2 separate regions of the Homo sapiens genome follow, and region 2 is linked to region 1. Evidence: fine-mapped expression QTL. A gene starts in region 1. The other region holds a variant in brackets. All regions are shown on one strand. Distances are from middle to middle.

Region 1 (8,761 bases):
TGGTCTTCACTTATATACTAAAGAAGTCAGCAGTGATCACCTTCTTAAAACTCAAAGGACAGTTGAGTTCCCTGGGCTCTTAGGCTCAGATTCTGCCCTCAGAAAAACAAGCACTCACCTGACTTTTACAAGTCACAACCAAGTTTGCATGCAAGAGAGAAAAATTAATTCTTTTGAGTCTTAAAAACAATGGAACAACACTTTCCTTCAAGCCAACGAAAGGCTTTCTGTAAGAAAGCCCTAAGCAACCTGAAGGCATTTTGGCCCCCAGTCATCAGAGCACTGAATAAGGACAATTAATTTGCCAAGCTCCAAGACCAGAAACCATAGCCTAGTAGGGAGTAGGAGGTTATAAGTGTTTGTTGAATTACTCGAGTAAACTAGAGCAAAGCATAGAAGACTAAATGAGATCCTAAATAAATGCCACTCTGTAGTATAAGCGCAATGCTAAGATTTAAAAAGAAGGGACTCAACTAATTTTGAAAGTTATTTTAAAATAGGATCCATGGGACCCTAACGTAGTAAATGAAATAAAGGTAAATCAATACTACATAATATGGGGCCGGGCACAGTCGCTCACGCCTATAATCCCAGCACTTTGGGAGGCCGAGGCGGGTGGATCATGAGGTCAGGAGATCAAGACCATCGGGGCTAACACAGTGAAGCCCCGTCTCTACGAAAAATATAAAAAATTAGTCGGGCGTGGTGGCATGCACCTGTGGTCCCCGCTACTCGGGAGGCTGAGGCAGGAGAATCTCTTGAACCTGGGAGGCGGAGGTTGCAGTGAGCCAAGATCACTCCACTGCACTCCAGCCTGGACGACAGAGCGAAACTTTGTCTCAAAAATAAATAAATAAATAAATAATAAAAAAATACTACATAATACGCAAGAAACAAGAAAGGAAACTGGCCTACAAAACTACAGACAAAAATTGAAAACCTTTTTTTTTTTTTTTTTTGAGACAGAACCTCGCTGTCTGCCAGGCTGGCGTGCAGTGGCACGATCTCAGCTCACTGAAACCTCCACCTCCTGGGCTCAAGGGATCCTCCCACCTCAGCCTCTGGAGTAGCTGTGATTACAGGTGTGCACCACCACGCTCAGCAAATTGTTGTATTTTCTGTAGAGATCAGGTTTCGCCATGTTGGCCAGGCTGGTCTCGAACTCCTGACCTCAAGTGATCCACCTGCCTCGGCCTCCCAACATGCTGGGATTACAGGCGTGAGCCACCACACCCAGCCAAAAACTTTTTTTAAAAGTCAAGTTTGGCCAGGCACCGTGGCTCACGCCTGTAATCCCAGCACTTTGGGAGGCTGAGGTAGGCGGATCACAAGGTCAGGAGATCGAGACCTTCCTGGCTAACACGGTGAAACCCCGTCTCTACTAAAAATACAAAAAAATTAGCCGGGCATGGTGGCGAGTGCCTGTAGTTACAGCTGCTGGGGAGGCTGAGGCAGGAGAATGGCGTGAACCTGGGAGGTGGAGCTTGCAGTGAGCTGAGATTGCACCACTGCACTCCCGCCCGGGCGACAGAGCGAGAGACTCCATCTCAAAAAATAAATAAATAAATAGATAAATGTCAAGTGTGATTTTTTCAAGCATATTCTTATTGTTTATGTTTACAAGTATGAGTATTCATAGACACATCACACTTATACTAGTATCAAATATGATACATCTGAACTACTACTATACTTGAATATTAACGTAAGCCTCTGAGGAATTCACAGTAATAGAACTGCTGTTATTTAGGATTACTGATCCCCTATTGTCTTGCACTTAGAAGATGTTAATGAAAGATGATGACAGGATTGTGAACACACCAACCTCCCTGAGAACAAATTCATTATATTCAGTTTTCTACAAAACACAAATGAGGATCATTACAAAAGGATTCACAACAAATTCCTCTGGATTTCCATTTCTCCCAGGTAAGTTGAAATATTATTCAAACCACACAAAATTAGTTTACATACAAACTTCACTTTTTAAAGAGATGGGGGTCTCACTATGTTACCCAGGCTGGTCTCGAACTCCTTGGCCAAGTGATCCTCCTACCTCAGCCTCCCAAAGTGTTGGAATTACAGGTGTGAGCCACTGTGCCTGGCCTACACACCACTTAAGGAAACAAATTGAAAAAAAACTATATGTGTGTTTATCTATCTGTCCAGCCACCATGGAGTTCTTGACATATATTCAACATACAGGCCCTGTCCTCAAGGTCATTCTTAATCAGTTCAAATTAAATCTAGTCCTCCATTATAAACTCCAAAAGCAACTTAGTTATTTTGCTAGATATTTTGCCCTCCCCTTTCAAACTATATGTTTAATACTCTAAAAACGGGTTTATGCGCCTTATAGATATCAACAGTGTGTTATGCTCCCCCTATTGACTAATATTCAAAATAACAATGAACTCCCCACGGGTTGCCTTTGAAGTGCTGGGATTCAAAACTATGTTGGTGATTTTTATATTTAAAAACATGAGCTGAATCAACAGTTGTTAGGCAAAGCTGCCGTGTAACGGTCAGATTCCATCAAAACAGGAAAAATTAAAGTTGACAAATGTCAAACTGAAGGGCCAAAAAAAAAAAACGCTCAAGCCTTGAAACACTAAACAATGCAGAAATAAAGCCAAAAGCAAAGAACAGCAAGAAATAGAGCAACATCCTTTAACTGACACAATGGCATGAAATCAATTTCATGTTAATAGCCCTTAAGGGGGTAAGAATTATTTCCCTGCCTCCTGTGCCAACCCCAAGCTGTTTCCTAAGGAAGCCAAGTAATGGTGATCAACAATGTCTGGAGAATTAATAAAAGAAATTAAGAATAAAGATCCATGTTGGCCAGGCGTGGTGGCTCACACCTGTAATCCCAGCACTTTGGGAGGCCGAGGCAGGTGGATCACGAGGTCAAGAAATCGAGACCATCCTGGCCAACATGGTGAAACGCCGTCTCTACTAAAAATACAAAAGTTAGCTGGGCGTGGTAGCGCGCGCCTGTAGTCCCAGCTACTCTGGAGGCTGAGTCAGGAGAAACTCTTGAACCCGGGAGGTGGAGGTTGCAGTGAGCCGAGATCGCACCACTGCACTGCAGCCTGGGGACAGAGCGAGACTCTGTCACCAAAAAAAAAAAAAAATTTCCATGTTAATTAATACAAGTCAGAGTTCTATTTATAATTATTTGGGGCCAGTTTCAGAGGAACTTTAATTGGGCACCCTCATAAGTATGTAAAATCGCCTAAATTCATCACAGATACCTTATGTGTGTTTCAAGAGATATGCGTTCAGCTCAAATAGAAAGCTGAAAGATGGGAGAAGATGCATGGACTATGCACACAAATCTATGTACACACAAATCGGCCTGCACTTGCCGCTCTCCGCTGAGGAAGGAAGGTAGCTTTGGAGTCAGAACTAACAGAAAGTTATGTATGATCTTGGACAAGTAACTTAACCTCTAGTGTCTTATCTGTAAAATAGGGTTATTAATAGTGCTTTTCCCATAGAGATGCTGTGAGGATTAAGTGCACACAGTATGGGCTTAGAAAACGTTAGCTGTTATTATTATCCAAAAGAAACAACTGAGTTCACACTGAAGTAACTGTTTGCACTCTGCATTCAGGAAGAAGAAACGGTCTTGACGTGTGTTTTTACTACCTGTGGAGACTTCTCCCAAACCGCTCACTTCTTCGGAAGGACATAAAACTCAGAATACGCCTGGTTCCCCAGCACAGCCTGTCACTCCTACTATCCTCTGCCCTCGCCGCTCCTATCCTGCCACCGCAGGGCTAGCGGCAAGCAGCGCTAACCTCCGTGCGGTGCTTACTCGGTGCCAAGCACTGTTGTAGCACCTCACACACATTAAATCATTAGATGCTCACAGCAACTTTACGGGGCAAGTACTACTATCCTCACTTCACAGCTAGGGAAATGGAACGGTTTTCTTCTTCCAGCTTTTCGTGAGGACACCAAATCCACTAAGTTCTACTTTGCCAAGGTAATTCATGCTTGACACGTCGGCTCCTGACACTATGCGATTCTGCAAAGCGGGGCAAATGCCCTAATAAGATCAAGTCTGCAAGCAGATTCTTCTAGCGACAGTCCAAGATTTCCAAGTTTGTCCTAACCAAATGAATACAAGAAGAGAGCCTTCAAAATAAACCGGGGCGGGGGGGGGCCGAGCTGCAGCTTGCGGCTCAGCCCGCAAGGCACCCTGAGGGCGCGGCCAGCGGGGAACGCAAACCGCGTCCGTGCACGAGTCCGGGAGCCACAGCCTGGGCCACGGCAATTGACTGCGAACCCACAACAAACCATTCCCACCGAAGCTGTCACGCGCCCGGAGGGAAGTGGCCGCCGCGCCCCGCAGGGGTCAGAAGGACCCGCGGAGAGGAAGAGTGAGGGCGGGCGTGGAGAATTCCTCCCCAGCACTGCGCATCGCCGGGGGCACTGCCTGCCCCGTGCGGCCGCTGCCCACGCACCGCTGGCCACCGGTGCCTGCTCCCCGGAGGGTAAACACCGCCCCACCAGCGCCTCCCTCCCAAGGCCGGAGGTCCTGGCGGCTGGAGCGACCCTGGCCGGTAAGTAGGCACTGGCAGCCCGCGCCGCGCCGACGGGCACCCGCGCAGCCTGCAGAGCCCACAGCCCGGGCGGGCTGCAGCGCCGCGGGGCTGGGCCGGCACGTACCTCGGAGGCGGTGTGTCCAGCGGAGATCCACCCGCAGCAAGTTGGAGGAAAGCGGCGGCAAGTTTCCCCGCCCAGCGCTCGGCGGCGGCGAGCTCCGGCAGCTGCTGCGCCGCGGCAAAACTACGCCATCCGGACCCGCTGGGGACTCTCACCTCCTGCAGGGAGCTCCGGGAATCGCGCAGGGAAAGTGGCCGGGGCGCGAGAGCCGCCGACTGCCCTCCTTCACTCGCTGGGAAGAGGAAAGTGCCGCTCGGCGTCCCCGAAACCCTCGATTACCCCCATCAGGCCGACCCGGCGCACTCGCCCTCCCTCGCACACACGCGGGCGGGGACGGGCAGGACGCCACAGCAATCAGCGCGCGGGGGGAAGGGCGCTCCTCCGCCGGCCCCACCGGGGGCTCTCGGCCGCCCAGAAACTCCTCCTCCCGCCTCCCGCCTCCCGCCTCCTCTCTCCTCCCCCTTTGCCTCCGCGGCTGATGGATGAGCCCCGAATGCTGCTCGAGCCTGTGCTTCCCTTCGGGACGAGGAGGCCGAGAGAGAAGGGGCTAGGGGCGCGGCCGGGCTCAGCGTGCCCGGGTTGGGGCGGCCCCTGTCCTGGGGGAAGCGCGAGGGAGACGTGGGCACGAGCTGCGGGGACTCGCTCCCTCAAACGAGGTCCTTTGAACTTTCCAGGGCTCCCTGGAAGAGTTGGATTTTCATTTGGTTCCTTGGTCTTTATATAAAAGTTCTGAAACCTCAGATAATCTGATCACAGCCTCTTGCCCTCTCCCCAGCAGAGCTCCCCCATGCACACATTCATTCTGTCCCTGTGCTTTTTCCCAACCTCCGGTCCCGCTTGTTGTCACGCTCTGATGGTGGGCGCCGGCGGAGTCTTGCCTCTTCCCCTCCAGCAGCTGAGACTGCATTACCCAGCCGTTCCCCCTGCTAGCTAAATAAATTAATACAAATAATGGAGCTAGGTCAGCATTACCGGCGTTACCCGGAGGTGGGCGCGATATGAACGACAGTCTCGGCGGGGCAACGTCCTAAGTACCTGTGCCTGTGCGACGTCCTAAGTACCTGTGCCTGTGAAGTACACGCTGCAGAAGTTGAACTGCTGGCACCAGAACACCACTCTGATACTCTTGCTTACACCCAGTTTTTCTTATTAAAAAGTATACTTAAGTAACAGGACATTGTTTTACAAACAGGCAGGTGAAATGACCGTGGACTGACAGGTTTCAAAGACCAGACTTCCAGTCCTGACTACTGTGCGACCTTCCACAAATGGCTAACGGCTAATACCCGTCAAGGCTCAGTTCAAATGAAGGGCTTGGCCTAGAAGGCTTCTTCCAGTTCTAAAGGGCTATGGACCTATGCCTTTTTTTTTTTTTTTTTTTTTTTTTTTGAGATGGAGTCTCGCCCTGTCGCCCAGGCTGGAGTGCAGTGGCACAATCTCAATCTCAGCTCGCTACAACCTCCGCTTCTCAGGCTCAAGCGATTCTCCCACCTCAGCCTCCTGAGTAGCTGGGATTACTGACAAATGCCACCACGCCCAGCTAACTTTTTGTATTTTTTGTAGAGGGGGTTGGCAGGGCGGGGGTCTCACTTAGTTGCCCAGGCTGGTCTCAAACTCCTGAGCTCAAGAGATTCGCCTGCCTTGGCCTCCCAAAGTGCTGGGATTAGAGGCGTTAGCCGCTGCACCTGGCTCAATCCTAGGCTTTTAATATGTTGGAGAGTAGAATGAGGAGGCTTCTTATGACATGTTATTTGGAAAGTTATTGAGAGAACAGGAAATATTTCTCGTCCTCTTCCTCTTGTACCTATAGGCAGAGAATCCACCCAATTGCAGAATTGGAGATTCATTCACAAAGGTCAAATGTCATCAGTCACCTGAATTACTGCAAAAATCTCCTCACTGAACCATTTTTTTCCTTACCAATATTCATTGAGCACTGACTATGGGAGAGCCCTGAGTCAGGCATTGGGAATACAAGTAGGCATAATATTCTGAAGGAATAAACAGTCCAGATGGAGCTAGCCTCTGCTTTTATAAAGTCTAAGTTTAAGGCCTTAAGATTTCTCCTAGACTCAAATTAAACAGTATTTGATATGGTTTGGCTGTGTCCCCACCCAAATCTCATCTCGAATTGTAAGTCCCACAATCCCCATGTGTCCTAGGAGGAACCCAATGGGAGGTAATTGAATCTTGGGGATGAGTTTTTCCTGTGCTGTTCTCATGATAGTGAATAAGTCTCACGAGATCTGATGGCTTTAAAAACAGGAGTCTCCGTGTACCAGCTCTCTCTGCCTGCTGCCATCCACGTGATATGTGACTTGCTCCTCCTTACCTTCTGCCATGATTGTGAGGTCTCCCCAGCCATGTGGAACTGTAAGTCCAATAAACCTTTCCTTTGTAAATTGCCCAGTCTCGGGTATGTCTTTATCAGCAGCATGAAAACAGACTAATACAGTATTTATGCCTTGTTAACAAGTTTTAGTTTCAAGTACAGATGTGAACACTTGAACTAGGTGTGAATATTTAATCCCACATTTAAATGCATCGGCCAGGTGAGGTGGCTCATGCCTATAATCTCAGCAATTTGGGAAGCCGAGGTGGGTGGATCACTTGAGGTCAGGAGTTCTAGACCAGCCTGACCAACATGGTGAAACCCCATCTCAACTAAAATACAAAAATTAGCCAGGCATGGTGGCGGGCACCTGTAATCCCAGCTACTTGGGAGGCTGAGGCAAGAGAATCGTTTGAACCCAGGAGGCAGAGGTTGCAGTGAGCTGAGATGGTGCCATTGCACTCTAGCCTGGACAAGAGCAACACTCTGTCTCAAAAAAATAAAATTAAATTAAATGTATCAATCATGTTAAGGCCTTCTAAATAAAATGGCCTGGTAGATAATTTAGGAGTGTCTTGTCTTTAAAGAGTGATGAAGTGACTGGTCCCCGTAGAGCCAGATTCACAACAGTAACCATCAACATCTGAGCCAGCGTGGGTACTGAATTCTTTTTTGTTTGTTTGTTTTTGTTTTGAGACAGAGTCTCGCTCTGCTGCCGAGGCTGGAGTGCAGTGGCGCAATCTCAGCTCACTGCAACCTCTGCCTCCTGGGCTCAAGCAATTCTCCTGCCTCAGCCTCCTGAGTAGCTGGGATTGACAAGCACGCACCACCATGCCTGGCTAATTTTTGTATTTTTAGTAGAGACGGGGTTTCATACCATGTTGGCCAGGCTGCTCTCGAACTCCTGACCTCAAGTGATCCACCCGCCTTGGCCTCCCAAACTGCTGAGATTACAGGCATGAGCCACTGCGCCTGGCCATGGGTACTAAATTCTATACATATAAACACATTTACTTCTCACAGCCCTCTAAGAATATGTATAAATGAGGCCGATATACATGCCTTTATACAAACTGAGATCTTGTCCACGATTCAATCTCACATCCACCGACCTCAAAACCTGTCCACGATTCAATCTCACATCCACCGACCTCAAAACCTAAGTCCTTAACCACCAGGTTCTTCTACCTGTCATCAGAAGCTTTATAGACTGGCAAAATAAAAGGGCTCTTTTTTTTAATTCTGAGCTATTTAGTTTCAGTAGATGATATGGAAAAACACAAGAAATTACATCAGTATTTACAAAATTAACAATGTCTACAGAGATGTTTTCTCTTTAAATCTTTACAATATGATATTAAAAGCAGAAATCCAGATACCTCAAGCATAGACGAAAGGTTTAAAATAAACTTGAATTTTTGGTTCCTGAGCAAAGCTCTATAAAAAAGGGTTCCCCTACCTCTTTTCTTTCTTTCTTTCTTTTTTGAGACGGAGTTTCCCTCTTGTTGCCCAGACTAGAGTGCAGCAGCGCGATCTCAGCTCACTGCAACCCCCACCCCCACCTCCCAGGTTCAAGTGATTCTCATGCCTCAGCCTCTCAAGTAGCTGGGATTACCAGCACCCACCACCATGCCTGGTTGATATTTGTATTTTCAGTAGAGACAGGGTTTTGCCATAACTCCTGACCTCAAGTGATCCACCCACCTTGGCCTCCCACAGTGTTGGGATTACAGGCGTGAGCTGCCGTGCCCA
Region 2 (8,761 bases), 160 kb before region 1:
GTAAAGCAGCAAGGCTTGGGACAATGGCAGACAAGTTGGTTCCCAGCTTTGAGCAAATTCTCACACTGTACTTCTGGAAGTCCCTAGGCTTTTTCCAGCTTTAGTGGAGCTACGCCAAATGCAGGTGTACAAGGAGGTCTCCAAAAACCACCACCATCTTTCCCAGCCATATCTTCATGAAAGATAAGGAGTTAAGTCTAAGTGCCTCCACACTCCCCCATATTTACATCTGGACTGATGGTATAGGGGAGGGAGGACTAAGGAAGGGAATGGCCAGAGAGCGTAGTGCATATGCCCACTGAGATTTTTAAAAATGTATTCTCTAAGAACAAGCTGCCCATCATCAACCCTGAAGTCCTGAGGCCACATGAAATAATATAAGAGGAAACCTCTAACAGGTTTCCTCCATCTATTTTTTTATGTTTTAGAGGTTCTTCCTACCATAAAAGTGATTATGCATGGTCCACACAGGACCTGAGAAAAGAGCCAGAGCTGGACAAGGCAATGTAGACACCTCCAATGTTCCCATTCTTGCCCACTGCCTGGCTCTTTGCACCTCTTTTGACCATTTTGCCATCTGGAGGACACATTCTGCCCATGCCCCACCCCCGACACACACATGCATAAGACATCCATATTTAATGGTGCTCTTCTTTAAATTACTCCATCAGACTCCTTACAATTCCCTTAGTAGACATCTTTCTTTCTTTTCACCTTGTATAGAGAAGTGCCCTAATTGTTCCTATAGACACTCTGAAAGAGTTATTTATGGAAGGAAGATGAACCCCCTTTTTATGGCAGGCACTCTGCTAGGCATATATTATCTTATTTCTCTTCCAAAATATAAGGAGATAGGCATTACCATTCCTGTTAGAGAAGGAGAACCTAAGACTCACAGAAGCAACACATGTAGCTGAGAACTTACATGCGCAGGCCCTGTGTCCAGTGCTTTAGGTGAAATATCCTATAGGCCCTTAACAAGTATTTGGCAAATAAATGAACAAACAAATGAACTCAGCTAATGAACCACAAACTCAAGGTGAGTACTATCATCATACCCATTTCACAGGTGACCAAACAGACTCCGTGTTCATCAGTCAGACTGCACAACATCTACTAGGAGTAGTAATTGGAAATGGGATTTAAATCTAGCCCTGTCTGGCACAAAGTCAAGATTCTTTCAATTTCACTATGCTGTCTCTAAAGGAAATACTAGAAACAAGGTTTCTATAAACCATTGCCCCCTTTCTAAATAGTAATTTAAACTTTTGTGGGAGCAGGTACCTTTCCCTCACAGCACAGTCAGAATTCACATCTGAAACAGGGAATTAGAAAATCACAAAGCATAAACTGGTTGGGAGAATAAAAAAGAACATCATGAAACATTACCTAATTGTTTAGTAATGTTGTCATGCATTGTCCAAAATTGGCCTGGAACAAGCGTACAGCCAAGGAGAGGAACATAAACAGATCTTGCACTGGGATGAGCAATCTCATTTCTAGCCTTTCTGATTCATATGAGAGATGGGGACATTCAAAGTGAACTCCAGGACTGCCATGGACCAGGCACACATACTCAGGGAAAGAGCCATCGAAGGGTCAAGGCTGAAAGAATATTTACACAAGAACTCCAGCAGGGAATTAAAATGTACCGTATGTTTTTGCCTTTCAAAGCATGATTCCCTTTCCTGTTTTTGTTATTCTGAAATTAAAAACATTTGGCCGGTGTGCCAGGCAGCAAAAGCAGCAGACAGCCTAGGTCACCAACACCCCTCATGCCATGCCAGAGAAGGCAATCAAAACATCTCTGACTTCAGATCATGGCTAGGCTTTGGGCTTGACAACAAATTAATGTATCACCATTACATATGATGGCTCACTGGGATCCTAGCAAAGTTATAAAAAAAAAAAAAACCCACGGGAACCAGAAACGATTACTTTAAAATTAAAATATGTGTGCTAGTGGTTTTGCCTGCTGCCTCTGGTGAGTGCTTTTACATGACGTTGCCAAGGGAACTGTTGGCTTTGCTCACTGTGGTATCACATGGAAGGTGCCATGAATGAATGAATAATACCAAAACCAAGGGCATCCCTCTCCCAAAATACTGAAAACATAAAACCCACTTCAGCTTACTCAGTGCAGGAACTAAAAGAGAGATTGGCCAAAAAAAAAAAAAAAAAAAAAAAAAATTTGAGCCCATAGAAGAGATACTAAAGAGATAATTATCTTCTTAAAAAATAGGGAGGAGGATTTTTCTTTAACTTTCAATATAATTCAGTCAAATAGTTATTGCCTAAGCATATTTGAGATAAGATTTACTTTACCAAGTTTCAACATTCAACTTTTGAGGAAACCAGCTGCTGTTTGCCCATCATGCCAATGGGCTAAGCCTTGTGCGTACATCTCTATTAAATAGAGGGCCTTGGGAACAAGCTGGAGTAGACTTGTCCAGCATCATTTCACTGACTTCGCACTTACTGTGATTCTTCTATCAGTGTTTCACACTTAGGAGTTGGAAGCAAGCAAAAAGACATGCCAATATTTCGTATTTAACTCAAAAAGAAAAGTCAATGATGTGAGCTGGGGTCAGCCTAATAGTCCATACTTTCTCTAAGTACCTAACTCCAAAATAAAAGCTGATATTCGGTACTATGACACTGAGGTCCTTGTGGGATGCTCAATATGAAGGCTTAATTGTGTTCATTACTTTACACTTACTATTAGTGGAAAGCATACTAATGTATTTCAGGAATTTCACAAATGAGGGAGCTGGGGTTCAGAGAGGTTAGGGGACTTGCCAAAGGTCACAGTGGGATTACCTGGACTCAGACCTGGGTCCGTCTTAATCCAAGGCCATGTTTGAACAACCGCACCTATTTTATAGGAGCATGCTATTTTGCAAAGTGAAAAATAATTGACAGAGCTTAGAGAGTCCAAAGAGGCAGGAACTTTAAAAATAACACTTATAAAGTACAGCTTAAATTGTTGTCATTTATCTAAACAAAACAAAAGACATGCTCCACCAACTTACAATAATTTTCAGGCTTCCCTTAACATCAAAAGATTTGATCACCCAGTTGACAGACTTTTTGCACTTCAAGATCAGGATGAGATTTTTGACCACTTCAAGATCCTCTTGAGAAGGTCTTATATCAATTGTTATATCCACCTGGAAAGCACTGTGAATGGAAGACAAAGGCAAAGTTAAGACCTACATGCCAGAAAGTTGCAACTATCTCCCCTCTTCCAAGTCTTCATGTTTCTAGTGTCTGGCCAGTTGATTAAAAAGCTGGAGTTGATCCCAGGCCAATGACATGTGCAAAACAGATTGTTACTGCACACATAACAAAATTGTTTTACATAACAATAGAAACATATGCTTGCTGATAATTAGTCACTAAAGTTTTTCTCTTCTTTGATGGAAAAGAGGTGGTTACTTAATGCAGCCACTGTTTGAAGTGGACTTGAACGAACCAGAAGAGTTTACTTTTGAAGCAGTATTGTTGCTTTTTCAACCTTCAACACCTTCGATGTACAGGATTCCCATTTGGCTAATATGCTCAAATTCCTTCAAAACTGAAGTAGGTGGCAGTTTGGTGAGTTGGGGGCGGGGTGTTGGGATAAGGGAAGCATGGTGGTAAAAAAAAAAATTAGGAAACTTCAGAGTAAAATAAGAGACAAAAGGCTAAAGAATTTCTTGATTTATATAAGGTTTGCTTAAGTCATTAACAATTGCTACAGAATCGTATCTGCATTTACTTTCCCAAACTTCTGGATATAAGGTTATTAAAATAAAGAAAACAGATGGTCAACCAAGTGATTACTGGAAAATTGATGAACACAACCCAAACTTCTAAGAATTCGTAAAAAAGAGAATTTTTTACTAAACAATAACATCCCTGTCATTCTGAATTTAAGGGAACAGTCTTTCTTTCCATCTCAGCTTTACACACTTGTAAAGCATAAAATGCATGGTATACTCCAATGAAGCCTCAGGCCTGACGTCGAAGCACATTCACCAGACTGCTCCTATTCCCATTCCCTTTTCACTTTCTACAAAATTCTTCAAGTGGCCAGAGTGGAATCTTATCAAAACGATCTGTAGCTTACACGCTTTGAAAGTCAAACCCCGATTAGCATTTTCACCTCGAAATCCCTCTACAATATACATTTAAATTTTCAAGTCACTAGTCCAGATGCAAAGGAAGGAGGGTGAAATGCAGGCTCATGTGGGAAAAGAACCTACTTTTTCTCCTTTTTCTTTAATTCCCTAATTATTCTTGATAGGGAGGGTCGAATTTCCAATCCAGGGGTAGGAAGCTGAGAGGGAGAACAAGCGCACAAGGGAGAGGCAAGTTCTATCGAATGGCTTTTTGGTATGTCACCATGAAGGGCCACTCCAGCATACACACACACACACACACACACACACACACACACACACACACACCAAGCACACAAGGGAGAGGCAAGCGCTATCGAATGGCTCTTTCGTATGTCACCATGGAGGGCCACTCCAGCATACACACACACACACACACACACACACACACACACACACACACACACCAAGCACACAAGGGAGAGGCAAGTTCTATCGAATGGCTCTTTGGTATGGCACCATGAAGAGCCACTCCACCACACACGTGCATGCGCATACACACACACACACACACACACACACACAGATTTAACGCAAACAGCTCTGAGTGCCTAAGCGCTCTAAGGACACCACAAACAGAGCTTTATTAAAAACAGAAGGTTACTAAGATGATAATTATATTAATAGGGCATATTTTGTAATTTTCCTATCAGGGATAACCTTAGTCAGAGGTGATAAAGATGAAGGAAGAGTGACTGTGTCCTGTAATTAACACCCAGAAGTTTGGAACAGGCTTCAGGAATTCATCTGAAATATCTGGGATCTAGGGACAGATGCAGAATATAAAATATACCACTGGTGCCTTTACTCTGTTCTTCAAAGCTTCTGTGAAACACATCTGATGAAGCACACCTGAAGCATCAATGGCTACCTTCCCTCCTGCGTGAAGCATCAATGGCTCCCTTCCCTCCTGCGTAGGGGAGGGTGTAGGACGGGCTACACCTCTCCCTGCCTCAAGTCAAGGAAGATCTTTACTTTCATCTCTTGTCACACTCACACACTTAGACTCACTTACCTGTAGGGGTTAGAGTTGGGGGTGATTAGCTCGATGATGTGTACTTCCTCATTCTGGGGCTGGCTGGACATCACACACCCTTCTGCTGCTTTGGGTTGAAGGTACTCAGCAAGGTAATTGAGTGAGAGAAAATTCTTCCCTATGTTGCACTTTGGAGGGAACACTTGATCTGAAAGAGGCACAGGACAATCTGTCAAACCACTGAGGTACTCGGTAACCAGATTCAAAGGAAGGAGGGT[G/A]ACAGTGAAACTGAGCAAATGGCAGACACAGGGAACCACGAGCTCAAAGGATGGTTCTTCGTCTGTGAAGTCCGCAACCACTGCCCTGAAATGCATCCTGTTATGGTCACCAGTGACCGCCTATTGACTAGCCCCCAACTAGGGGCCTCTTTTGGCTAAATCTTCTCCTTGCATGTTCTCTGTGATACTTCCTGTCCTCGTCTGTTTCCTCTGACCTATCTTTCACATCTCTTCCACTGGTTCCTCCTCTGCTCAGAATCTGTATAGACCCCAACCCAGAGAATCTGATTCAGAACACCCAGGCGGGGCCTAGGGAGCTTTCTTTTTTGAAAAGCTCGTAGTAGATTCCAATATAAACCAAGGCTAAGAACTTCTCAGCTCCTTCCTCAATCCCCTTTCTATCTCATTCTTTTTCTAGGTGATCTCAATCACTCCCATGGTTTCAACCTGTACCTAGATCATGACTCCTTTTCTGAGCAGTTGACTTATACTGTCATCTGTCTACCAAGCATCTCCTATCTAAAAATCCAATACTTATGTATTTCATGGTCAGCGTATTTAACATTCAATCCATTCTATCCCCAAATGCACTCCTCCTTGGATATTTGTTATTTCAACTATCAGGAGAAGCAACCACCTAATTAATCCTCCGACACCCCATGTAGAATTAATCTTTCCCTCATATGTATTCCTCACAGCACTTTATACTCTGAAGATGAAAGGTAGGAATTTGGGGGAAATAAAGAAGGCAGACTTTCACTCTTTCTCACAATCTGAACACAGACAACTCAAGTTTATATGGCACTTTACAGTTTACAAAGTGCTTTCGCAAACATTATCTCACTGTGCTGAGAGTTGCTCACCACCTCCACCCGGGAAAGTGATGCAAGTACCAGAATCTGAAGACACTCCCACAACGGCACATGCCATTTACACAGCACGGCGGCTGATGGGATTTCCATCCACGGGCTTAAATATTTCAACAGAACTTGAAAGAAACTGCTGGCAGTGTGACAGCTGGGACCAGTGTCAAGGAAGTTCTAGGTGTAGCATGCTTTTTTCAGAAGGGATAATTAATCAGAGGCCTGGCACTACTATAAAACAGACTTCTGCCTTTTCCATTTTGAGGACAGGATGCCAGGGTTCAAGTCCACATGGAAGTCTCACTTTGGAGTAAGGAATCCAACCAGGGGGTCCCAAGACTGGGTTGATACTGTCCCTCCCCCTCCCCACTTGTGCAACCTCCCTTGTGCTGAGGTCCGCAGCACACACTGGGGCATCATGGCTCTGGCCACCACAGCACCCCCAGCACCACCCCAGAACAAAGGGGACCAAAGCCTCTGTTTGTCGGCTCGTTGCGAGAGAGCATTGGGTTTGCACTCTGCAGTCTCCTCTAATTCCCCTCCCCCTCAGAGAGAAAAGCTCAAGGCTCCACTGACTCAGGCTGCTAGAGCAGCCTCCCTCCACATCTGCTGAGGGTTTTGCCAGATGAGCAAATGAGGTATGCACACCGTGCAGCTGCAGCCCTGCGGATGCCTCCCCCACATCACAGGATGGAAAATGATATTGGAACGGCAAGGTTGAAATTTAATTAAGAAAGAGCGTCTATGGGCCAGGGACAGGACAGTCTGGAACTCAAGAGACTAGGGCCCTCCTGGGATTGTGGCCGGCATATCCAGTTCATAGGTGTGCCTGGCTTGTATCTGGCACATAGTGGGCATATGGTATAGGTTTCCTGAATTAACAAACAATGATGTGAGATTTGAGACAAATAACAAAATATTCACTCATGTGAAGCCACTAGGAAAGGTCTAATTGTTCAAAAGTTGATGTTATTAAGGGCTCTAGTCCCAGAAGCCATTGTCACTAAGTTGAATAAGCTGACCACTTTTGTTGTGTGTGGTTTCTCCCCCGCTCCCCAATGACTTTCCGAATGCCTGGCATCAAAACTTATACCGAGTGCCAAGTAGAAAGGAAACCACAAAGGGGAATTCCCGGGTAGAAACCTGGCAAGTTTGGGGGCAGGGGGAGTCACATGCTTATTTGTATTTTAGGGAAAGATTGACAAATGACTTTGAGACACAGAAGGATATACTCTGAGAGCAGGAATGAACCTGGGGGGTAATGCAAACACCTCATTTTCCTGCTGTGGAAACTGAGGCTCTGGTGGTAAGTCAATGTTGCTTGAAGCCTCGCAGCAAGACCAGCTGGGATAAGAGCAAAACTCTTAAATTCTTTCATTCTGGGTATATAGATGAGAGCAGTTCCCAAACGTCAGCAAGCATCAGATCTCCTAAAGGGCTGATTGAAACACTGACTGCTGGGTCCCACCCCCAGAGTTCCTGATTCAGTTGGTCTGGGTTGGGCCTGAGAACTGGCATTTCCATCAAGTCCCCAAGTGATGCGGATGCTGCTGGGGCAAAAACCACACTCTGAGAACTGCTCGGGTTAGAGCAACCAGGCCTCATGGCCTGCGATCGCTGGGTACAAGAAAGGTAGAGCCAGGTCGGATTCTGGGAAGTGGGGGATGAAGCTTGCTCAGTGCAGTCTGAGCCGTGGTGATAAACATATCACTTTATGGTCCACTGACCTCACCAAGGAACCTCCTTTCCCTACTGCTCCTCTCTCCACGGCATGGCCCGGTGACTCATACTCAACTGGTGGCTGGAGTCAAGTTTCAGGGGTTCCGAAGGTGTTACCAAGGAGTTAACAGTTTTTACTGCACCAGACACAAGGTCCTTTAAGTTGGCTTCCCCTACCCAGTGTGCACAGGCTGAACCAGTTAAGTGACAACCCGTGGCTCTCAGGGTAAGTGACTACTGTGCTTAGAAAGAAGCTCATGCACTGCCGAGAGAACACAGTCCAACATTCTAAATGTTATTATAACAAATTTTCTTATTCTAACAAATTCCAAGGGGTAATCAACATTCTTTCATGCTACTAGAATTCTGCTTCAGAAACGCGGCCCGCTGGCCAGGGCTTAGAGTCTTTATTAAAAGAAATTTTTCATTTTGTCTCAATGGGATTTGACCTCTGTTATTAGCTACCTATCATGAGAGTACAGAAACAAACTTAGACTTTTTGAGCCCAGCCCTCCTCTAAGTCCCCTTCTCTCTGCCTCAACTAAACAAGGATGTTCATCCAGGTGGACCACTTCCCTTTTTGAGTTATGCTTATTTGGCTAGGACTTAAAGTACAGCTCAGGCAACAAGCGTTAAACTCAAGAGTCAGGAAGCCTGGGTTTGTGTTCTGGCTTTGTCACTTGTTAGTAACTTGGATGTGAGCAGGTTCACTTAGCCCTCCACTAAGCCCTCTGTAAAACGGTGGAAATGACATCTTCCTCC

What was found. PIP is the estimated chance that this variant, and not a neighbour inherited with it, causes the effect. A credible set is the group of variants that fine-mapping cannot tell apart.
Region 2: its variant is the best candidate, but not a certain one, in a credible set for the expression of TGFBR3 in lymphoblastoid cells (TwinsUK, PIP 0.61).

Annotation. Positions count from the first base shown.
Region 1 is chr1:91,881,198-91,889,958 of GRCh38, forward strand. TGFBR3 (transforming growth factor beta receptor 3) reads right to left here and starts at 4,954. Exons shown (of 17, transcript NM_003243.5): 1 at 4,681-4,954. RefSeq lists enhancers at 3,762-4,525, 4,526-5,288 and silencers at 4,431-4,640, 4,651-4,730, 5,081-5,220.
Region 2 is chr1:91,724,627-91,733,387 of GRCh38, forward strand. TGFBR3 (transforming growth factor beta receptor 3) reads right to left here. Exons shown (of 17, transcript NM_003243.5): 6 at 5,179-5,347; 7 at 3,033-3,180. Among named protein-coding and RNA genes, the nearest start is that of TGFBR3, 160 kb to the right of the region's middle. RefSeq lists an enhancer at 7,906-8,200. The variant G/A (reference allele first, on the strand shown) is at 5,418.